7 linked regions of the Homo sapiens genome follow. Changing the gene in region 4 together with the main gene of any one other region gives a genetic interaction. Each region holds a gene or a part of one and is shown on either strand. Other genes may lie near its edges.

Region 1 (3,500 bases), on a different chromosome or scaffold from region 4:
CAATTTTTCTGAACACTTAAATTTAACTAAACAGCTAGTCTATAGTTTGCCTACACATTGACCAGAAGATTTGTAAAAATGTTTTTCTCTCTTTTGCTCAGAATAATAGTCCCATTAGAATTTTTATTACACAATGGAGAGGTTTCTCTCTCTCTCTTTAAAACCGCTATTTCTTGAGTAACATAAGAACCTGAATCCAAATCCTGACAGTACCATTTATTAGCTGTTTTTGCCTTGAGTCAATTACTTCATATTTCAGTGAGGCAGTTTTCCTCCTCTGTAAAACTGGGTAGAAATGTCCACTTCATTCATTCGCTATGCAGATTACATAAGATAACATATGCAAAGTGTTTCACCTACTCCGAAGTACACAGTAAATAATAAATAATAATGATAACTAAAATTAACAAGTTAAGAAATATATGATGCAACCATGTTGCAGGCTCTAAAATGAGAGAGACATTAAATCTGTTATTTGAAAATGAGAGTCAGGACAGATAAAATGATACATATTCAAGCTTACATAGTAAGAGGCAGTTGACTTAAAGTATAATAAAAAAAAAAAAAAATATATATATATATATATATAAAAAGATTCCGGGTTTCCTGACACCCAGGTTGTAACTCTTTTCACCTCTATGAAATTATTTGTCTTTTTAAAGCAATAGAAGTTATTCAACCCTACAGCCACAATATAACTATAACACAAACATGGATTACGTAGTTTTGAGTGGAATAATATGAGTACCAGGACATGTGTAGACACCCAGTACTTGATTCATTTTTTTATCGTTGTAGCAGAATTCCTTGCATATTTACTGAATGGATTCCAAAGATCACTTTGGGGTAAACCTGCAGGATAAATGCCTCAGATAGCAAATGTTGTTGGCTATTACCTTTCCTCTATAGGTTGATACTTTTCTTTATCATAAAGAAATTGTACCATACTTCTTCCCTAGAACTCAAAGTATGCCTACAAAAGCGCTTAAAAGGGTTATGCAAAATGAAGGTACAAACCTGCAAGTAACCCATCTCTATCAAATGTCTTTTAGCAAAATAAAATGAGCCATTTTCATATAATTCTCCATCCCAGTCTTGTCGACGAGGCCGTTTAGCTGGATTTAAATTCAGAGGTTCGGTCACTTCACGAACTAAAAGCAAAAAGTTAGAGTAAGTCCACGTTGCCCTGAATATAGAAAGTGTTAATTTAGTAACTAAAAAAGTTAATAAAAATGAACTCAGAATGCAGAGCATTTCTTTATCTAGATAAAGAACTTTTCTTTTTTTTTTTTTGAGACAGAGTCTCGCTCTGTCACCCAGGCTGGAGTGCAATGGTGCGATCTTGGCTCACTGCAACCTCCGCCTCCTGGGTTCAAGCGATTCTCCTGCCTCAGCCTCCCAAGTAGCTGGGACTACAGGCATGCACCACCACACCTGGCTAATTTTTGTATTTTTAGTGGAGATGGGGTTTCACCATGTTGTCCGGGCTGGTCTCGAACTCCTGACCTCGTGATCCGCCCACCTCGGCCTCCCAAAGTGCTGGAATTACAGGCATGAGGCACTGCACCCGGCCTGATAAAGAACTTTTTTTAGGCTGAATGTGGTGATTCACGCCTGTAATCCCAGCACTGTGGAGGCCAAGGCGGGCGGATCACTTGAGGTCAGGAGTTCGAGAGCAGCCCAGCCAACATAGTGAAACGCCATCTCCACTAAAAACACAAATTTAGCCGGGCATGGTGGTGGGTACCTGTAATCCCAGCTACTTGGGAGGCTGAGGCAGGAGAATCGCTTGAACCCGGGGGGGGGAGATTGCAGTGAGCCGAGATTGCGCCACTGTACTCCATCCAGCCTGGGCAACAGAGTGAGACTCTGTCTCAAAAAAAAAAAAAAGAACTTTTTTAAAGGAATAAAATCTGTAATAATTCTGATGATTTATCTTTGCTTTCCAATAGCTACTAGAAAACTAAAGTATTTTATAATGAAATGTGGAACAATTAAGGTATTCATACAAATATTATGCTTTGGGAGGACATCAAGACAACCTTAAAGTAGCTTTAAAAGAACTGAATTTGTCATAAAATACCTATATTAATATTTGGGCCCTTTAATCTAGTTCTCATTGTTTGCATATACAGAAATAAGTTTTATTTATCTAATGTGGTTGAGAACTTGTTTTTATACAATTATTGCTGAAAAGTAAAGATTTCTCCATTAAATTATTGAAGATTTTATATTGATGAAAATGTTTATGTAACATATTATACATTCTTACCATTAGTTAAAAATATACTAAACATAATAATAAATTATGTTTATGAGTATACCTGATAATAAAGGCTCAGTAATGTCAACATTAATGAATAGAACATAATGTAATCAATGAAGACTTTGGTACTGTCATGTAGAGATTCCTTTGCCTTTCCACTGAGTTTTCCTCAAATCTGTGTGTGTGTGTGTGTGTGTGTGTGTGTGTGTGTATGTGTGTGTGTGTAATAGCTGGTTACTCTCCAGAATCTTTCTTCACTTTTTGCTGCCATTTCTGTGTTTATACAGGCTTCTAGGAATAACCTCTACTTACTTGTTTAACGAAATCATCCCCTGTTCAATTCCACCCCAGTGTTTGAAATAACCCAGGAAAAAACCTTAGCAAATACAAATTAAATAGCTAGAGATAACATAGCTTTATGGGCACTGGCTACAGAGTAGTGACCAGAACTCTCTCTATTCTCAAAAAGTATACAATCTAGGGGTAGAGACAGGTAATAAACCAACTAGATAATTCAAGTGGTACTTTGAAGAAAAGAGAGGGACAAATCTTTCCTAGTATCGGTGGCTGCTTTCTCCCTGGTCATATCTGCTGAGTATGAGGAGAAGGTACAAGAAAGATCAAGCTTTGCATAATCAGAGGGACTCTGCTGAGGTAGGCAAAAACTAGAAGGGCTTTCAATGACCTTGTGGACTTGAGTTACAGATTGTCATCTGTAGGAACCACAAACATATAGCTCGTTTTTCCCCACCTAATGCTTCCCCCTTACAAGACTTTGGCTGAGTGTACTGGGTGGGAAGCTGGGAATGGGCTGGAAAGCAGGGAGACATCATAATAGTATTGTGGTCATCAGATCCCTTAGTCTTGTTAGCAAGAGTAGGGTATGGGTGTGAGTGTCAGTAACACATACAAGATGTATCTCCTAATAAGACACCTATACTAAGAGGTGAGATGAAATTAAAGTTTCAACCCAGCCCAACTCCTAATTGAATCAAAGTGATCAGCCCCTTATCCTATCTTCCTGATAGAAGAAAAGGTGTACCCTCTCTGGAGGAAAATATGTACTCAAGTGTCTATGCCAGATATACAATTAAACATGAGCCAAATGAAGAGGCAGAAATAGGTGACTCACAATCAAGAAAGAAGCAGATTACAGAACTGTAAGTGACTAGATGTTGAAATTTGCAATCAAGGACTTTCAAATAGCTATCAAAAATATGTTAAATTAGAGGAA
Region 2 (3,500 bases), on a different chromosome or scaffold from region 4:
TTTTTCCAAGTAAGTTTACCAGTCTGCAATATGCAGATTAAAATGAGATTTCTGTCTCAGGGGTATTCCTCTAAACTGCCAGTTCTTTCTTCCATTCAGTGACCAAACTAACAGCAACGCCGGGGCACTTGACCACAGTGATCCACAGTTCTTTACAACTGATAGTGGCCATTTCTGACATTTGCACTAACCTGACAACAGAAACTGGGGAGGAGAGCTCCTTTCTCATCACAGTAGCAATGGCCTTGTCTCCAAAATTTGTTTCAAGTGGGGGTAGAGGAGTATAGAAAAAGGATGAGGGTGAATTTGTCAGCTGCCTTTTAGGAACAGCTGTGTTATTTTTTCTTAACAAGCCTGGAGTGGGGGAGGACCATATAACTTCACTGTGGATATAGTTTAGGAAAGGGCTTTTTTGATCAGCACTACTCAATAATTTGAGACTTAAGCCCTTTTTTGTTTTATTTTGAAACTACTGGTATTTAAACACATGCCCAATGATGGATGCAATTCTAGGAAAAAAATCAATTTTGAGTTTCAGAGCTGCAATGAAGAGGAAGGTGCAAAGGCAGATATTAGCTAAAATCAGCAAAATCTCTACTGGGACTAGGTGTCAAATGATTGATTCTATAAGTGGTCTGAAATGTGACTCACTAAACCTAATATGCTCACCTGGGAATTTGCATCATCACATTATGGAAGGAGCATATATTATTTCAGATTTGATGTAATTAACAAGCATAAGTGAACTTTCTTTTGCAAGACCAACAGAAAATCTCAAATATATGTCAAAAAAAGGTATTTTGGAAAAACATCAACAGTCTTCCCAGAACCTATTTTATGATTATAGAAAGAAGAGAATCTATTAGGATAAAATGTACACCAAGACATCTAATTTTTCCATGCAAACCCAACAAGCTGCTTGGCTACCACTCTGCTCTACAAACTTCAAACACCAATTTTTCATCTTTTCCTTTTCCAAATTAGGTATCAACATTTTCCATGAACCCTCTACTAAAACTAACCCTGGAGTAACAGAGACTTAGAAGTTCAGTTTATTAAAATTTCAACAAAAGGAAACAGTAGCGCAGGTTCATTCTATTCTTGTTTTTCCCCTTGCTCTTTCATTTACTGATTCAAGCAACTCAACTAATAGTAAATGTATGATACCTACTACTATGCAAAAAATACACATGTAGGCCAGGCATGGTGGCTCATGCCTGTAATCCCAGCACTCTGGAAGGCTGAGATGGGAGAATCGCTTGAGGCCAGGAGTTTGAGACCAGTCTGGTCAACATAGTGAGACCCCATCACTATTTAAAAAAGAAAGAAAAAAAATACACATCTACTCCTACCTTTGAAGAGCTTGTGGTTTGTCAGAGATAGTCACATAAAAACATTATAATCCCCTACCCAATACTGGAGGGGAGGGATCCCCTGCGGGGACACAAAGAAGGACATATTGCTAGGGACAGCTAGCAATGTGGGGCTGGAGGGAGAGTGAGGGATTGGGAAATGTTCCACAAAGGGGATGACATCTGAATTGTGTCTAAGGGATGCTGGGAATTTGCCTGTTGAAAAAGTATGAGAATGTTATTCAGACAGAACAACAAAGACAGAGAGAGAGACAAAAAATCACAGCCTATTTAAGTTTTAGATCTACTACCTGAGTATAGAGGGGAAAAGCAGGAAAGAGGATACTGGGTTGGGGCCAGATCCTAAAGAGTTTTTTTAAAAGTTTAATCCCAGAAATCAACCACTGGTCTTCCTTCTTGTGTGGCATATCACAGAAGATGATGACACTACATAGAAATGCCAAAGAGAATGCTAGGGATGATCATTCCTTTGGAAAACCTCCCAGGCTAATACATACAGCACAAGATGATCATACATTTAGCTCTCTTGCAAGTGTGCTCTTGTTTGGCTTGGTTTTAAATATAATTTGTACAAGAACGTTCCATGATTACTTAACTAAAGCCCAAAGTTGATAAAAAAGACCTCTTTCCCCAAATTGAAAGAGTAAACTATTACTCCTTCAATTTCTCTTCTTTAATCAAAAGCAACAAAAGTCAAGGATCAAGAGATCATTCCCGCCTTGCAGAGATGTAAAATGAGGCAGAAATTTATAATAAGCTCTGCTTTAATCCCCTTCCCAAAGCTTTTCTTTGTGACAAACTATTTTTTCATGTTCCTGAAACCTTGAGATCTCAAGAAGCAGTGTGTAAAAGTGGATCTTGAGGGGTGTGTATGGTTCATCCCTGTTGACAATCACCCAGTTTTCTATAATCCTATCCTAGCCTTCTAGTTACATGTAAGGATTTACCATAAGCTTGTTGGAAAAGGGAGGCCCTCTACAATCAGTAGATTGAGGCCCACGAAACTTGGATTCATGCTCCCCACTTCACTAGCTACCATGTAACTGAAGTGAGTAACATTTAACTCCTTAACTCCTTCTCCTGATACTGATTCAACTGGAAGAACAGCTGACACACACTGCTCCCCCCTACTTTTGGGAGTTCTATCAGTAAGGCAGAAGAGCAGATTATCTCTCAGAACATTCTCATGCTCCTGACCACTACCAAAGAACTACGTTAAAAATGCTTCCATCTGAAACTGCTGCATTTCAAGACAAATTCAAATCTGAATTCACTCAATGAGAGTTTGGAGACAAAGAAAAGTCAACAGATCTTGGGCTGCACTGAAGAACATCCAGAGTTTCAAATAATAAAGAGAAACCTTTTCCAGGCCTACCCAGTCAGGCACTCTGGCAAGTCAAGATTCTCAACCCTTTGAAATCAATGATTCTCAATCTTGGGGCTGCAGGTTAGAATCACCTGAAAAGCTTTTGAAAAACAAGATGCCTGAGCTCTCTCCTGGAGACCAACTGAATCAGGAACTCTAGGACAGTGGTCCCCAACCTCAGGAACCAGTTTTGTGCAAGACAATTTTTCCAGAGATGGGCAGGGTGGGCATTAGATTCTCATAAGGAGTGTGCTACCTAGATCCCTCACATGCGCAGTTCATGATAGGGTTCACATTCCTTTGAGAATCTAATGCCACTGCTGATCTGACAGGAGGTGGAGCTCAGGCAGTAATGCTTGCTTACTGGCTGCTCACCTCCTGCTGTGCAGCCCAGTTCCTAGGTTCCTAACAGGCCATGGACCCATACCGGTCTGTGGCCCAGGGGTTGGGGACCCCTGCTCTAGTGGGTAGAGTACTGGCATCATGTTTTTTGAAAACTCCCCTTGTGACTATGATCCAAGTGAGAGTTAAGGACTACTGTTTTACGGCCCTGCTACTCAAAGTAAGGTCCTTGGACCAGCAATGGTATCACCTGGGAACTCAAAAGAAACACAGAATCCCAGGTTCCGTTCCTAACCTACTAAATCAGCATCAATATTTTAAGAAGATCCTCCCTCACGTGGTTCATACAGACAATAAAGTTTGAGAAGCACTGCTCTACAGAAAGGGCTCACACAGCACAGGACCTGTTTTGTAACAGT
Region 3 (3,500 bases), on a different chromosome or scaffold from region 4:
TCCCAGGTAGCTGGCCTTATAGATGCATGCCACCATGCCTCGCTAATTTTTGCATTTTTAGTAGAGACAGGGTTTTGCCATGTTGGCCAGGCTGGTCTCAAACTCCTGGCCTCAAGTGATTCGCCCACCTCAGCCTCCCAAAGCGCTGGGATTACCAGCATGAGCCACTGCGCCTGGCCCTTTTTTTATCTTTATCTTCTAGTGTTGCTACCTCTGAAGAGAGGAAAAATTTTAAATCATTCAAATCTCTATTACACAAAAATTTAAATTAAAATGAATTAGAGACCTAAATGCTAGAACTAAAACTATAAAACTCTTAGTAGAAAGCATAGAAATAAATCTTCATGATCTTGGATTAGGCAGTGGTTTCACAGATGACACCAAAATCATAAATGACAAAAGAAAAAACAGATGAATTGGATTTCATCAAAATTACTAACTTTTGTGCTGCAAATAATACCATCAAGAAAGTGAAAAGACAACTCAAAGGAATGGGAGAAAATATTTGCAAATCATGGAGGACTTTTATCCAGAATACATAAAAAACTCTTACAACTCAATCAATAAAATGACAAATGGATCTGAATAGACATCTTTCCAAGGACGATAAATAAATGGCCAATCAGTGCATGAACAGGTGCTTAACATCATTAGCCATTAGACAAATGCAAATCAAAACCATAATGATATAATGTAACTGCTATGTGTATATACTTGGAAGATTATTTCCCTATGTGAAAGAAAAAGTATGAATATTTTAATGTCTGACAGGGCTGCATTATCTGTTGGAGCTCAGTGGCTATCGACCACCAATGACTGAGAAATCAAGTATAACAAATATGAAACTCAAATTAGAAATAAGATGTTATCTTGGCTGGCACGGTGGCTCATGCCTGTAATCCCAACACTTTGGGAGGCCAAGGTGGGCAGATTATTTGTGGTGAGGAGTTCAAGACCAGCCTGGGCAACATGGTGAAACCCCATCTCTACTAAAAATACAAAAATGAGCCAGTTGTGGTGGCGCACACCTGTAGTCCCAGCTACTCAGGAGGCTGAGGCAGGAGAAACTCTTGAACCTGGGAGGTGGAGGTTGCAGGAAGCTGAGATCGCACCACTGCACTCCAGCCTGGGCAACAGAGTGAGGCGTGAGGCTCCATCTCAAATGACAAAACACACACACACACACACACACACACACACACACACACACACACACAAAGAAATAAGACATCATCTGTAAAATGGGAATTAAAAAAAAAAAAAGAAAAAAAGAAGAGGCCAGTTGTTTCCCATAATCACCAAAAAATATTTTGGGGAAGCAAAAAAGAGTACCCACATCACAACTCCCAGAGACCCTGATTTGATAGTTTGGGATCATTGCTAGAACTGTGGTTTCCAAACTACACCAAGCTGCCCTGGGGTACCAAAGCAAACTCACAGGTCCTACAGGATATTTTACATATTCAAATGAAACACAGTGATACTTAACATCTGTTGGTCATCATGTGAACCACTACTAGCTCAAGGTAGTTCAGTTTCAACATTAGATGTTAGATTTCTTTCAATGATCACATCTTTGCAAAGCTGGGTTTTCAGCAAAAATGAAGTACTGTGTGAAAATCACTGTGGAACAAGAAATGAGGGTGGCAGTATCCAATCTGATTTCTAAGGTTGGAGGAGTTGTATAATATCCAACAGCATATACATCCTATTAGTAAGTAATTATGATTGGCTGGGTATGGTGGCTCATGCCTGTAATCCTAGCAATTTAGGAGGCTGAGGTGGGAGGATTACTCGGGCCCAGGAATTCAAGACCAGCCTGGGCAACATAATGAGACCCTGTCTCTACTAAAAATAAGACAAAAAATAAAAACAAAAATAAAAAATATTAGCCAGGCACAAAGTGAGCTGTGATTGTGCTACTGCACTCCAGCCCAGGTAACAGAGTGAGATCTTGTTTCAAAAACAAACAAACAAAAAAGTATGATTATTTAAGAATGAAATAAAAATATTTTTTTCTTTCCATTTATGTGGATGATTTTGTTTTTGCTTTTGTTTTTCATAGAGACGGGGTCTTGCTATGTTGCTCAGGCTGGTCTCTAACTCCTGGGCTCAAGCGATCCTTCTGCCTTGGCCTCCCAAAGCACTGGGATTATAGTTGTCAGCCACTGTGCCCAGCCTATGTGGATGATTTTTTTTAAAAAATGTCTACTCAATGGCTAAGAAATAAATAAGCTGTTTGGATCTAACAAACTAATAAAACAAAAGTGTTAGGTATTTACCTTGACTTAGGAGCACCATGAAAATAATTACTGAAGACACTGAGGTAAACCTGAACTCAAACAGTTTGATGAACATTTGGGAGGAAGATATGACTCAAGAGGGTTCAGAGTCTTTGACACTCTGGATAGATGATAAGCTATTATAGAAGACTGCAGGAACCCCTCTTTTGGTAGTTTTGATAGGAAATTCAAAACTATCTTTTGAATTTCAGTGCCAGCACAAAGCTCTGAAACTTCAATAGCCAAATATATGCCTTAGATATCTGGGCAAACTCATCCCTGATCTATGCATCAAATAGGACAACAGGCTCACAGCTGAGTCCCAGGGATGGCCACCCACACCAATATTAACCAACAGAAAACCAGACCCTGATATGGTGTTATCCTAGGATAACACCACCTACTCTCAAATGACCTACGAGAGTCAAAACTCTTGGAAATACTAGGATGTGAATAACAGTGTCTTCAGCTTTTGTTTTCCTATGAATAATACAGAATTATGTCAATTAGTTTAATCAATTCAAAAAGAGAAGACTGCCTCTAAATAAGTCAAATGTTCTCAAAATCATTCTACTACTACATACCCCCACACCAATTTTTTCTTTTTTCTTTTTTTTTCTTTGAGACGGAGTCTCGCTCTGTCGCCCAGACTGGAGTGCGGTGGCACGATCTCAGCTGACTGCAACCTCCGCCTCCCAGGTTCAAGCAATTCTCCTGCCTCAGCCTCCCGAGTAGCTGGGACTACGGGTGTGTGCCACCACGCCCGGCTAATTTTTTTGTATTTTTAGTAGAGACGAGGTTTCACTACATTAGCCAGGCTGGTCTCAAACTCCTGACCTCAGGTGATCCACTCGCCTTGGCCTCCCACCCACCTCGGCCACTTCAGTTTCTTAAGCTCTTAAATGAAGATACTCCTGTTTCTCAGATTATTATGAGGGTTAAATAATTATGTAAATGTTTAGTAAATAATGGCTATAGCAATAGTTGTATTTGAATTAGGTATTTTTCTGATGGGTTGAGTCCTTAAACAAAAAACATAAAATGATACAGTCTCTGGATATACATAGAATACTGGTTATTTCTGACTGGCGGGATTATGGGCAACTTTTCTAAGTATACATTTGTATAATATTTTCATTCTTGGTAATATGTTCTTGTAATCAGGAAAAATTTTTTTTTATACAAATCTCTGGGAGGTCAAGGAGATCTGGGATCATT
Region 4 (3,500 bases):
TTTTGTTCCTAAGTTCTTGACTTAGATGAAGAAACTGATTCTTTGAGCTGTGAGTTAGATGAAGAGCTCATAAAAACCCAGTGTTGGCTGGGTGCAGTGGCTCACGCCTGTAATCCCAGCACTTTGGGAGGCCAAGGTGGGTGGATCACTTGAGGCCAGGAGTTCAAGACCAGCTTGGCCAACATGGTGAAGCCCTGTCTGTACTAAAAATACAAAACATTAGCGGGGCGAGGTGGTGTGCATCTGTAGTCCCAGCTACTTGGGAGGCTGAGGCACGAGAATCGCTTGTGCTCGGGAGGCAGAGGTTGCAGTAAGCCAAGGTCGCACCACTGCAGTCCAGCCTGAGCAACAACAGTGAGACTCTGTCTCAAAACAACAACAACAACCGCAACCACCACCACCACCACCACCACCACCACCACCACCTGGTATTATAAGTTGGAAGGATGAAAGGAGTTCTACCGCCAGGTGTGGCAGCTTCCTTTCTCCTGCCTCAGCCTCCCAAGTAGCTGGGATTACAGGCACCTGTCACCAAGCCCAGCTAGTTTTTGTATTTTTAGTAGAGACGGGGTTTCACCATGTTGGTCAGGCTGGTGTCAAACTCCTGACCTTAAGTGATCCACCTGCCTTGGCCTCCCAAAGTGCTGGGATTACAGGCATGAACCACTATGCCTGGACTGTAATTTTGAATCTGGGATAGACTTATGGAAAATGGGTGTCTGTGGAGTGCTTCAGCCCCAACTTTGAGCATCTAGACTGTAGGAAACATTTGGGCTCCTGGGGAATAAAGGAAAGTGGGAGAACAAGGATGGTGAAAATGAAAGGAGAAATAAGTGCCTCCTGTGCAGCTTGCCTTTCACTAGATTTGCCCCCTTCCCTCTCCCCACACTCTCTGGTTGGGTCTTTGAGAGCCAGGCTCAGCATTATGTTTTTGGTGGTTTTCTGATGCTGGTCCAGAAACCTTGGGAATGTGTTGAAGTGATCAGCTGTGAAGAACCTTAGTTACAGATAGTAACACTAATGCCTTTTTCCTTCTGCATTGAAGATAATAGTGGAACCATGGATTTATTTGGAGGTGCAGATGATATCTCTTCAGGGAGTGATGGAGAAGACAAACCACCTACTCCAGGACAGCCTGTTGTAAGTCAGTTAGTAACATGAACTTATTCAAGGCCAGGCATAAAGTTTCAAAGGTGAAGAGTCTCCCTTATTCCAGGAAAGGAAGTTGATAACTGAATTCTAGTATGAAAATACCATGAACAGATGACTTTCTTCATTATGTAGGGAACTCTTGGTTATAAGGGGGAGTGGAAATAACTGCCAAACATGAGGTTGGTGTCATGCCTTAGGGGACTGAACTGTGAGGACTTGTGATTTGAGAACCATTGACTTGAATGTTTTTCTTGCTCATGCCAAGAAGTGTCTGCTATGTTGATAATCTTCTCTGGTTTTAATTGATAGAGTGACTTCCTATTGAAGTGTTAATTTCACACTTTTGTTGAGTATTTGGAAGACAGATTTATCATAAAGGAGATAGTTTTTTGTACTGAGGTATCCAAATTGATCGTTTCCCATTTTGTGTGTAGGTGGGTTGGGATGGGGACTGGGGACTTCTTTAGTCCTAAAGTGATATCTAATTATGTTTCTTGCACCCCAGAGTAATTAAAGTGTGGAGGTTGAAGGAAGCCATTTCTAAGGTCCTGTCAAGCTCCAAACTTCCGATTCTTTCACTAGGATGAAAATGGATTGCCTCAGGATCAACAGGAAGAGGAGCCAATTCCTGAGACCAGAATAGAAGTAGAAATACCCAAAGTAAACACTGATTTAGGAAACGACTTATATTTTGTTAAACTGCCCAACTTTCTCAGTGTAGAGCCCAGGTAAGGAAATCAATTAAAATTTTTTCAGGATGTTGAGTAGAAATACATAGAATGTTTATTTTTCTTATTTCGCATTGAGTTGACAAATCACAAAAACGGAAAATTGATCGTGTATCTCTGAAAAAATTAGTCAAGCACATCCTGAGATAGAAAAAATATGTATTAGTAAGGGAGGCTTTTAATGCTATGATTGTTTTTAGCAGTTTGATACTTTCTTATGAATTAACAGACACCACAAGTGTTCAAGGTATTTTTTTAATTAGTACAACCCTGAAAAGGCTGAAATTGAAAGCGATGAAATTTGCTAGAGAAATGCCAGTGTCCACTGTAGCAGCTATTGTTGGTCTAGAAAAGGTAATGGTTTTGGACAATTAGACAGTGTTTGATGGGTATTATTTACTAAGTTTACTCGAGCTCTTGTGCTTTTAAAATTTTTTTTCCACAGGCACAATGATGTGGAAAGCTAGAGCATATGTTGCCTATTCTTTGGCAGAGTTACATAAGAAGAAGAAAGGATATTTTGAATATTTACCCTTGCTTGTACTTTATTTCAAGCAATATGTATTAACAACAAATTTTAAGAAGTAAAATTACTGGCCGGGTGTGGTGGTTCACACCTATAATCCCAGCACTTTGGGAGGCCGAGGAGGGCGGATCACCTGAGGTCAGGAGTCTGAGACCAGCCTGACCAACATGGAGAAACACCCTGTCTCTACTAAAAATACAAAATTAGCCAGGCATGGTGGCGCATTCCTGTAATCCCAGCTACTCGGGAGGCTGAGGCAGGAGAATCGCTTGAACCTGGGAGGCGGAGGTTGTGGTGAGCCGAGATCGTGCCATTGCACTCCAGCCTGGGCAACAAGAGCAAAGCTCGGTCTCAAAAAAAAAAAAAAAGAAAAAAGTACAATTACTACTTCCTTGAAGTTAAGCATGAAGATATTGATCATTATGATTTTTAAAATTATATTATGATTTTTTGATATAATGGTGTTTATTAATAGAGATGTTATTACATAGCAGTAATATTCTTTATAAAATATGATTAATAGTTTATTTGGAAAACAATTTGTAGACCTTTTGATCCTCAGTATTATGAAGATGAATTTGAAGATGAAGAAATGCTGGATGAAGAAGGTAGAACCAGGTTAAAATTAAAGGTACCATTTCATGCTTTTTCCTTTTTTTTCTTTTATAAAGTAAAACCTGGAGATACTAACTTGAAACTTGAGCTTTTGAAAGTGATTTTTTTACCTAACACTTCACTATATGGCTGTGTTCTTTTGATTGCTTTTGTTGACTATTAGGAAAGAATTTTATTGTACTAAATTCCCATTAATGCTTCTCTTTGATACCTTATACCATCTGGTCACGCTATCAAAGGAGGGCCTCTAATCTTTTAAGTAAGGAGGATGTAGGTTCAGCAGAAGTTTCATCTTTTTATTTTGAGACACGGTCTTGCTCTGTTGTTCAGGATGGAGTACAGCGGCACAAACCCAGCTCTTGGCAGCCTCAATTTCCTGGGTTCAAGTGATCTTCCCATCTCAGCCTCCTGAGTAGCTGGGACTACAGAAAACATGCCACCATGCCCAGCCTTTTTTTTTTTTCTGTAGATATGAGGTC
Region 5 (2,733 bases), on a different chromosome or scaffold from region 4:
TCCAATTCTTTGCTAGCTTCATTTTCTGAAGGTTCTACACTTTCAACTCGATTAGTTTCCATTACCTCCTGGTCAGCAATTACATGTTTGACATTCTCAACCATCTCTAGCACATCCATAACTTCTTCAGGCTGACTATCCTGCTGCTTCTCACTTTCCCTTACCTCAGTTTCCTCCTCCATCTTAACCTCCATTTCCTGTTTTTGTTCTTCCTCCTCCTGTTCTTTCTCTGCATCACTATGAACAATCGCTATTTCCTTTTCCTCTTCCTCTCCTGCTTCCTCTATTTCTACATCATTGTGCTGATTACCTGTCTCCTCCAACTCTTCCTCTCGCTGAGCCACCTTACCCTCTTCTTGTTCCGCCTTCTGTTCTTCATTACGCACCACCTGATGCTCTTTTTCCTTCATTGATTGTCTTCTAGGCCTAGCCTCCATTTTATTTATTTGTTCTGCAAATTCGATGCGTCTACCTTCAAATAAAGCTAAAGAATAAAAATTTACATGTGTAAAATTTACCGATTAAGAAAATTCAAAGCCATAATTTTATAACTGGTCACAAATTGTCATTAAGCTTCATCTGAATTTGTTTTTGTAAAGTTATGACAAAAGATTATGGCAATTAAGTAACCACAAACTGACATAAAATTATAAAAGCAAAGATCCATGGGAAATCTACATACTAGAAATTGTGGCAGACAGAACTACACATTTTCTAACTGATGAAGAAAACAGATCAATCTTTATGTCTGATGAAAAATAAAACTTCTGTAAAACAGAACCAGTTTTGGCATAAAATCATATATATTAATTTTTCTGATCCCAAAGAGATAAATCATCATCTTAGCAGTGTCTATCCTTCCATGTGTTTTCCATCTAGAAACTGAGTTGGTTTTCACATTTGTCTTATTAGCATTTTATCAGAACAATAATAGCATGCAAAAAAAAGTAATTTTACACAAATGCTTAAGGAATACAGATGCATAAGCACTGTCTATAACTTTCACATTAAACTCCATCATGATACAAATATTCCTATACTACAAACTCACCAGCATCTCAGAATGTATCTTTTTTTTTTTTTTTGAGATGGAGTCTAGCTCTGTTGCCCAGGCTGGAGTTCAGTGGCGTAATCTCGGCTCACTGCAACTTCTGCCTCCCAGGTTCAAGTGATTCTCCTGCCTCAGCCTGCCAAGTAGCTGGAATTACAGGTGCCCACCACCATGCCCAGCTAATTTTTTTTGTATTTTTAGTAGAGACTAGAGACGGGGTTTCACCATGTTAGCCGGGATGGTCTCGATCTCCTGACCTCATGATCTGCCTGCCTCAGCCTCCCAAAGTGCTGGGATTACAGGCGTGAGCCACCACGCCCGGCCTAGAATATCTTATTATCTTATTTAAAAAAAAAAAGCAAACACAGCAAACCAATCACTGAATCATAATTATTTTAGAAAACAAACGTGTGCATATGAACATATTACCTTACCCACTATGAACAATTCAATGGACCTCTTCGCATACTTACCGTTCATTTTTCTCTGTGACTCTTCTATTAGTTTTTGGGTAGCTGGACACATTCTTCCAGGAATATAAAACAAATGGGGCTTTGTCTTAGTTCTTATATATTTAATTATTTTGGCATTATGTTCATTCCATTCTTCTTGCTAAAGAAAAGGTAAAGGGTCAGTGCTTTTGTAAACACAAAGGATTACCAATCTTAGAATTCCAAATTACCACTCACCAGCTGCGCAAGCTCAACTTTCTGTTCCAAAAGCCGCAGTTCTGTCTGTTTAGCACGCCTCTCTTCAAACAGTTCTCTCCTTTCATTTTCAACCTGCTTTCTCTCTTCTTCTGCCTGAACTTCAAGTTTTTGTTCAATTTCCTGGCGCCGCTTTTGCTAAAAGTTAAGTAGCCTGCTTTAATACTTACGTGTTGAAATAGTTACAACAAAAGGTATATATGATTTCAGTTCAATTATGATAAAAAGTTATTACACATACTAATTACGTGAAACATTAGAGGCAGGTAGATCATCTGAAGTCAGAAGCCAACACCACCATCTCTACTAAAAACACAAAAAAATTAACAGGGCGTGGTTGCACGCACCTATAATCCCAGCTACTTGGGAGGCCGAAGCAGGAGAAATCACTTGAACCCCAGAGGCGGAGGTTGCAGTGAGCTGAGATCACGCCACTACACTCCAGCCTGAGCAAGAAGAGCCAAACTCCATCTCAAAAAAAATTTTTTTTTTTTTTTTTTTTTTCACTATGTAAAGGTATCTGCAGGCCGGGCACAGTGGCTCACACCTGTCATCCCAGCACTCTGGGAGGCTGAGGTGGGTGGATTGCTTTGAGCTCAGACCAGCCTGGGCAACATGATAAAACCCCATCTCTACAAAAAAAAAGAAAAAGAAAAAAAAAAGGTATCTGCATATGCTTCACATTTTTTCTTTTTTTGAGATGGAGTTTTGCGCCTGTTGCCCAGGCTGGGGTACAATAGTGTGATCTTGGCTCATTGCAACCTCACCTCCAGGGTTCAAGTGATTCTCTTGCCTCCGCCTCCCAAATAGCTGGGGATTACAGGCGCATGCCACCACAGGCGGCTAATTTTGTATTTTTAGTAAAGACAGGGTTTCACCATGTTGGCCAGGCTGGTCTCGAAAAACTTCTGACCTCAGGTGATCCACCTGCCTCAGCCTCCCAAAGTGCTGGGATTACAGGCATGAGCCACTGCA
Region 6 (3,500 bases), on a different chromosome or scaffold from region 4:
TTTCTTCCTGGCATTTATTAGACTTCTGTGATTCAAGCTATATTTAAAAAAATGGGTATTTGGCAACATGTGTAGAATGGAGTAGATGTGAAGGGCATCAAGAGTTCAACTGGGAAACTTTCAGTAGTCCATGTGAGAGAAGTTAAGACTTTGGCTTGGGATAGTCATAATCAAAATGGAAAAGAAAGTGTATTCATTCAACATTATCAAGACTTACTGTGTGCCAGATGTGTTGCTAGTGCTAAACATATAAATATAAATAAGATGATCCTTGTGTGAAGAAGCTCACTGCCTCGTGTAGTGGAGAAATCACTGGAAGAGCTTTTTCAGAAATCACAAATTGAGATCCATTGTTGCTAAGGGCTTGTCAGAATATCAGTGAAGGTGAGGTGGACGTGTGTGTTTTGAAGAACTCTGCAGTGATGGAAATGTTCTGTATCTGATGGCTATTGAGCACTTGAAATATGACTAGTGCAACTGAGAAACTCAAATTTTATTTCATTTTAAATAGATATATGTAGCCAGTGGCTACCATATTGCAGGGCACTCATCTACTGAATAATGAGATAGGTATATGTAAAAAGCTAATTATAACATAGTGTGATATATGTCTGGTAATAGAGCTGTGTACTGTGGAACATAGGGTTCTCTCTCTCTCTTACCTATTTTGCTGATGCATGTTATAACTAACACATATGACTAGGTATTGAAGAAATAGAATCAGTGGGATTTAGAAATGGACTGATGAATGATGAAGAGGGAGAAGTCAAATATAAAAATTTAAAATTTTAATGTCTGAGTATTAGAGGCTCACATGGTGGTGTAATTGACACAGGAAGTAGAAATAAAAATTGTGTGATTCTTGACCTGTTTTTTGCATTCCAGGTTGCTGTTTGTAATTTGGCTTCCCTGGCCCTGAATATGTATGTCACATCAGAACACACATACGACTTTAAGAAGTTGGCTGAAGTCACTAAAGTCGTTGTCCGAAACTTGAATAAAATTATTGATATAAACTACTATCCTGTACCAGAGGTATGAATAGATTTCTCTGCTTATTGGTAATTATTGAAATCCAAATTGAAAGGAATCAATCATGATCTTCAAGTCATCATTTAAATGGTTATCAATAAAATGGTTTGAGAAAAAGAGGTAGTCTGTCTCATTTGGTACAGAATGTTGCTTTTCCTGTTCAGTAATGTTTTCTCCTTTTCTTTAAAATCTGTTGACACAAAGGCATGCCTATCAAATAAACGCCATCGCCCCATTGGAATTGGGGTACAAGGTCTGGCAGATGCTTTTATCCTGATGAGATACCCTTTTGAGAGTGCAGAAGCCCAGTTACTGAATAAGCAGATCTTTGAAACTATTTATTATGGTGCTCTGGAAGCCAGCTGTGACCTTGCCAAGGAGCAGGGCCCATACGAAACCTATGAGGGCTCTCCAGTTAGCAAAGGAGTAAGTATATGGATGGAATTGTTTTTGCCTGTGAGTACCTGTAGTGGGCTGAATGGTGACCCCACAAAAGGATATGTCCACATCCTAATTCCTGGAACCTGTGAATTTAATTTCATTTGGTTCAAAAAAAGGTATTTTGCAGATGTAATTAAGAACCTTGAGATAAGGAGATTTACCTGGATTATCCAGGTGAGCCCTAAATCTAATGACAGTTGTCCTGCAAGAGGCACAGAAGGGGAAGCAACGTGACTATGGAGGCAGAAATTGGAGTGTTACAACCACAAGCCTTGGAATGCTGATAACCACTAGAAGTTATAAGAGGCAAGGAACAGAATCTCTTCTAGTGCCTCTGGAGGGAGTGTGGCCCTCCCAACATGTTGATTTTGGGCTTCTGGTCTTCAGAACTATGAGAGAATAAATTTTTGTTAAGTTACCAAGTTTTTAGTAATTTGTTGCACCAGCCATAGGAAACTTAAATACCTTTGTCCTCTGGAGTAAAAAGGATACTCTGTTTTAATCTCTTATTTAGAACTAGTCATTGCTAAAATAATGTAAGAGGGATGCTGCCAATGTTAGTTTTCTGTGGGTTAAAACATGGCATTCGTTATCTCACAGTTTCCACAGGTCAGGAGTCCAGACTTAGCTTAGCTGGGCCTTCTTTTCTGGGTCTGTGTTCAAGATGTTGGTAAGGGCTGTGATCTCGTCTGAGACACAGAGTTCTCTTCCAAGCTTACCTGGTTGTTGGCAGAATATATTTCAAGGACTCATGGCATCTTGCTTCTTTAAGGCCAGTGGGAGAGACCATCTCTCGTTTCAAAAGGGGCACAGTCTAGTCTCTTTTGAGGGTTTTCACCTGATAAGTTAGGTCCACATAGGATAATGTCCTCACCACCCCCCTGTCCCGCTTTTTTTTTTTTTTTTTTGAGACAGAGTCTCACTTTGTTACCCAGGCTGGAGTGTGTGGTGTGATCTTAGATCACTGCAACCTCTGCTTCTCAGGTTGAAGCAGTTCTGCTGCCTCAAGTCTCCCGAGTTAGTAGAGATGGGGTTTTGCCATGTTGGCCAGGCTGGTCTTGAACTTGTGACCTCAAGTGATCCGCCTGCCTTGGCCTCCCAAAGTGCTGGGATTACAGGCATGAATCACTGCACCTGGCGTAATCTTCCTTTTATTTAACTCAGAATCGGCTGATTTGCAACCTTAATTACATCTGCAGAAACCTTTCACCTTTGCCATAATCGCTGGAGTGACATGCATCCTATTCTCAAGTCATGTCCATACTCAAGTGGAGATTATAAATAGCCTGTGCACCAAGGTGTGGGAATCTGGGAAGCTGTCTTAGAATTCTGCCTTTCCCACTGCCTTTATTATCAGTACTATGATTCTTTACTATATAAAATGTTAATTTCATTTCTGACATTCCTGCTGATATTAGAAAATCTAATGTGTGGTTATTAGAAAATAGGTGTTTTTAGCTAAGTAAACAGATCAAGGGACAGATGAAGGCACTGAAGAAAGTAACATTTTTAGTGTTAAAAAAAGAGAATGTGTCAGCCACACCCTTTTATGAATGTTAGAGTTTTCTGGTTTGTAGATATGACATGGGATAATCAGTTTTCTTAGCCTGCTTCTGATCAATATGACTACATGGAATTTTGTCCAGGAAAATCTCTGGAGCTTGTATTCCTCATAGAGGTTGATTAGAAGACAGCATTTGTTGGGATGTGGGGACATGGCAGCTAGTCATTTGTGGGTTTTTTTTTTTTTTGGTCATAGTTTTAACTTGCTGTAGAATAAATTTGAGTTGTGTATTCCTTAGATTCTTCAGTATGATATGTGGAATGTTACTCCTACAGACCTATGGGACTGGAAGGTTCTCAAGGAGAAGATTGCAAAGTAAGTGAAAAGATGTAAAGTAGCTTTGAAGGCAGAAGGGTTTAGGTTCACCTTCTGGATCTTCAGAAGTTAGATATGTCATTTTAACTTCTTAAACTCATTTATTACAAATGGGGCTAAAATGGCCTATCTCACAAAACTATTTTGG
Region 7 (3,500 bases), on a different chromosome or scaffold from region 4:
GCATGGTGGCTCACGCCTGTAATCCCAGCACTTTGGGAGACTGAGATGGGAGGATCACTTGAGGTCAGGAGTTCAAGACCAGCCTGGCCAACATGGTGAAACTCTCTACTAATAATACAAAAATTAGCCGGGCATGGTGGAGGGCACCTCTAATCCCAGCTACATGGGAGGCTGAGGCACAAGAATCACTTGAACCTGGGAGGCAGAGGTTGCAATGAGCCGAGATCTCACCACTGCACTCCATCATGGGTGACAGAGCGAGACTCGGTCTCAGTAAAAAAGAAAAAATGATTCTTTTTTTGAGACGGAGTCTTGCTCTGTTGCCCAGGTTGGAGTGCAGAGTGCAGTGGCGCGATCTCTGCTCACTGCAAGCCCCACCTGCCAGGTTCACGCCATTCTCTCGCCTCAGCCTCCCAAGTGGCTGGAACTACAGGCACCCACGACCACGCCCAGCTAATTTTTTGTATTTTTAGTAGAGACGGGGTTTCACCGTGTTAGCCAGGATGGTCTTGATCCCCTGATCTCGTGATCTGCCTGCCTCAGCCTCCCAAAGTGCTGGGATTACAGGTGTGAGCCACTGCGCCCAGCCAAAAATAATTTTTTTAATTACCTTTCTGGTGAATGAGTCTGGGGATTCTCTTCAGTGTGTTATTAATAAAACACAGAAGTAGAGAGGCCTTTCTGCTTCTCAGAAGTTTAAACAGCTGTGTGTGCAGTGGCTTGCACCTGTAGTGCCAGCTATTCAGGAGACTGAGGTGAGAGAACTGCTTGAGCCCAGGTGTTCAAGGCCAGCCTGGACAACATAGCAAGACCCTGTTTCTTAAGAAAAAAAAAAAAGGTTTGAAAATACTTATCTCGAAGCACCTGCACAGTGAGCAGTTAGAAAGGCAACCAGCAGACAATGCACGTAAAAGTATTTGACATATGGAGTGCTCCAGTTGTTTCCATCAGTTCTCTTTCCTCATACTGTGGTGGCAGAAGTACAAATGGCACCTTTACCAGAAGGACACTGTAAAAGTTCAGTGAAGCTCTGCGGTTTCCGGTGTGGCTGTCTTCATCCCTAATCCTAAATGTTAACTTTGCAACCCTGTAAGATTTCATGTCTGTACCAGAAACTTTTTGTGAGGAAGCCTTGACTGGCCATTAGGGAGCAGAACAGTGAGGGAAAGTCTCAAGAGTAATATATCCGCGTGCTGAGCTGTGGAAGGAATGAACAGCGGCCTTTCTCTGAATGGTAATGTAGCTCTCAAAAACGCTGCCTGGTTCTTAATCCAAATGTCCAGAACCATTCTGTGCCTGGCAGCACACATCCAGACAAATGAAAGAGGGTCTCTTCACTTGCTAAAAGCCATTATAAGGAGAAATAAAGAAAAGGGAAAAAATTAAAAGAGGATCTCTAAAGGAACTTTCGTATTGCCTGCTGTTTGCAATCATACTGTCTGCTGCTGCTGCAGTAGAAATTTCTGAGCCGGGTGCGATGGCTTATGCCTGTAATTTCAGTGACTCAAGAGGCTGAGGTGGGAGGAGTGCTTGATCCGAGGAGTTCAAGACCAGCCACATCAACATAGGGAGACCCCATCTCTGCACCACCAACAAAAAATTAGCCAGGCATGGTGGCTCACGCCTATGGTCCCAGCACTTTGGGAAGCTGAGGTGTGAGGATTGCTTGAGGCCAGGAGCTCAACACCAGCCTGGGCAACATAGCAAGATCCTGTCCCTACAAAAAAAAGTTTTTAATTAGCTGGGTGTGATGGCACACACCTGTAGCCCCACCTACTTGGGAGGCTGAGGCAGGAGGATCACCTAAGTCCAGGAGTTTGAGGCTGCAGGGAGCCGTGATTGTGCCACTGCACTCCAGCCTGGGCAACAGAGTGAGACCCTGTCTCTAAGAAGACATTTCTTCTGGTGCTTTGGTGATGCTTCTGCTCAGCCTTTCTGTCTGTAGTCTCAGTCCGATAGTCCAGTCTGCTTTGAGGGCCCACCAGGACCTGGAGGAGGGGCCAGTTTCAGTCAAGGGTCTGCAGTTGACCTTGAGAACTTAGCACATTCATTATCTTTTTGTGGGCACTTCCACCTCCCATTAGAAAGAAAAAGATGGGCCCAGTGCGGTGGTGGCTTATGCCTGTAATCCCAGCACATTGGGTATCCACGGTGGGTGGATCACTTGAGCTCAGGAGTTCGAGACCAATCTGGGCAACATGGCAAAACCCCATCTCTACAAAATCCAAAAAAATGAGCTGGGTGTGGTGTCACATACCTGTAGTCTTAGCCACTTAGGGGGCCGAGGCAGGAAGATTACTTGAACCTGGGAGGTTGAGGAGGCTGCAGTGAGCTGAGATCACACCACTGCATTCCAGCCTGGGTGACAACGTGAGACCCTGTCTCAAAAAAAAAAAAAAAGAAAGGAAAAGATAGGGGTTGGTGTCTATGGGTATGTTGGTGTCTATGGGTATGGGCTCTCAGCCCGTCTCTTCTCATTAACTGAACCACACTGTTTCTTTACACAGGCCCCACATCAAGACCATCTTCCAAGGCATTGCTGCAAAAGTGGGAACTGGAGAACCCTGCTGTGACTGGGCAAGTTCTGGGCTACTCTTTAAAGCCAATTGGCAACATGGGCGTGTCTAAGTGATGAAGTGCGTGGAGAAAGGCCACCGTGGTCTCCCAGGGGTTAGCTTGGTGACATAAACGTCTCGATCTTTGATTGCTAGAATAGCCAACGCCTAGAATGCATGCCTGCTGTTCACATCTTTGTATCTTAGCTGACTGTTCATAGCCTTGAGGTTGATATTAAAAGCAGCCTTCTATAATTCATCTAAAAGATGAATTCTTTAAAAAGGAATAGGATGAAGTGAAATAAGATTTTTTCGAGCCATATTATTTCATGGCCAAAGGAAAGAATGTCAGAATCAAAAGTGGCGTTTGCTTGCATGGGTGAAAGGTGGAAGATTGAAGGTACTGTTGCTGTGTCAACATTCCATGAACGTGGAAAATTCCCCATCCTGTAGTGTGGGATTCAGGCATTCTGTGCTTGAACAAAGTAACCTGTGGACTTGCACCCTCACTGAATATGAAGGAGGCCTAACCTAGTTCATAGTACAGTGGTGCGATCTTGGCTCACCGCAACCTCCACCTCCCAGGCTCAAGCAATCCTCCTGCCTCAGCCTCCTGAGTAGCTGGGACTGCAGGTGCATGCCACCACGCCTAGCTAATATTTGTATTTTTTGTAGAGACGGGGTTTCACCATGTCACCCAGGCTGGTCTCAAACTCCTGGACTCTCAAGTCATCTGCCTGCCTTGGCCTCACAAAGTGCTGAGGTTACAGGCATGCGCCACCATGCCCGGCCTCGTGTTGCTGTTAAAGTAAACTTTATCTCATATTGTAGTTCAGCCATGCTGTGGATGGAAAAAAGCATTAGGCTCAGGAGACCTGAGTGGCAGTTCTGGCTTTCCATAAACTTAACTGTGACATCAGGCAAGCCACGTCCCTTCATGGACTT

What was found.
Region 1: changes in LEO1 (region 4) and CMAS together harm fitness more than expected from each alone (negative genetic interaction), as found in Homo sapiens cells (one large-scale study listed by BioGRID).
Region 2: changes in LEO1 (region 4) and NFYC together harm fitness more than expected from each alone (negative genetic interaction), as found in Homo sapiens cells (one large-scale study listed by BioGRID).
Region 3: changes in LEO1 (region 4) and SDHC together harm fitness more than expected from each alone (negative genetic interaction), as found in Homo sapiens cells (one large-scale study listed by BioGRID).
Region 5: changes in LEO1 (region 4) and PNN together harm fitness more than expected from each alone (negative genetic interaction), as found in Homo sapiens cells (one large-scale study listed by BioGRID).
Region 6: changes in LEO1 (region 4) and RRM1 together harm fitness more than expected from each alone (negative genetic interaction), as found in Homo sapiens cells (one large-scale study listed by BioGRID).
Region 7: changes in LEO1 (region 4) and PGD together harm fitness more than expected from each alone (negative genetic interaction), as found in Homo sapiens cells (one large-scale study listed by BioGRID).

Annotation. Positions count from the first base shown.
Region 1 is NC_000012.12:22,056,218-22,059,717, reverse strand, and holds part of CMAS (N-acylneuraminate cytidylyltransferase), read right to left. Parts: intron 1,152-3,500; coding exon 1,018-1,151; intron 1-1,017. UniProt on the Homo sapiens protein: Catalyzes the activation of N-acetylneuraminic acid (NeuNAc) to cytidine 5'-monophosphate N-acetylneuraminic acid (CMP-NeuNAc), a substrate required for the addition of sialic acid.
Region 2 is NC_000001.11:40,743,704-40,747,203, reverse strand, and holds part of NFYC (nuclear transcription factor Y subunit gamma), read right to left. Parts: intron 1-3,500. UniProt on the Homo sapiens protein: Component of the sequence-specific heterotrimeric transcription factor (NF-Y) which specifically recognizes a 5'-CCAAT-3' box motif found in the promoters of its target genes.
Region 3 is NC_000001.11:161,352,381-161,355,880, reverse strand, and holds part of SDHC (succinate dehydrogenase cytochrome b560 subunit, mitochondrial isoform 1 precursor), read right to left. Parts: intron 1-3,500. UniProt on the Homo sapiens protein: Membrane-anchoring subunit of succinate dehydrogenase (SDH) that is involved in complex II of the mitochondrial electron transport chain and is responsible for transferring electrons from succinate to ubiquinone (coenzyme Q).
Region 4 is NC_000015.10:51,958,279-51,961,778, reverse strand, and holds part of LEO1 (RNA polymerase-associated protein LEO1), read left to right. Parts: intron 1-1,045; coding exon 1,046-1,140; intron 1,141-1,734; coding exon 1,735-1,880; intron 1,881-2,952; coding exon 2,953-3,037; intron 3,038-3,500. UniProt on the Homo sapiens protein: Component of the PAF1 complex (PAF1C) which has multiple functions during transcription by RNA polymerase II and is implicated in regulation of development and maintenance of embryonic stem cell pluripotency.
Region 5 is NC_000014.9:39,178,254-39,180,986, reverse strand, and holds part of PNN (pinin), read right to left. Parts: intron 1,897-2,733; coding exon 1,741-1,896; intron 1,664-1,740; coding exon 1,525-1,663; intron 485-1,524; coding exon 1-484. UniProt on the Homo sapiens protein: Transcriptional activator binding to the E-box 1 core sequence of the E-cadherin promoter gene; the core-binding sequence is 5'CAGGTG-3'. Capable of reversing CTBP1-mediated transcription repression.
Region 6 is NC_000011.10:4,125,799-4,129,298, forward strand, and holds part of RRM1 (ribonucleoside-diphosphate reductase large subunit), read left to right. Parts: intron 1-885; coding exon 886-1,035; intron 1,036-1,236; coding exon 1,237-1,458; intron 1,459-3,275; coding exon 3,276-3,352; intron 3,353-3,500. UniProt on the Homo sapiens protein: Provides the precursors necessary for DNA synthesis. Catalyzes the biosynthesis of deoxyribonucleotides from the corresponding ribonucleotides.
Region 7 is NC_000001.11:10,405,564-10,409,063, forward strand, and holds part of PGD (6-phosphogluconate dehydrogenase, decarboxylating), read left to right. Parts: intron 1-2,507; coding exon 2,508-2,577; intron 2,578-3,500. UniProt on the Homo sapiens protein: Catalyzes the oxidative decarboxylation of 6-phosphogluconate to ribulose 5-phosphate and CO(2), with concomitant reduction of NADP to NADPH.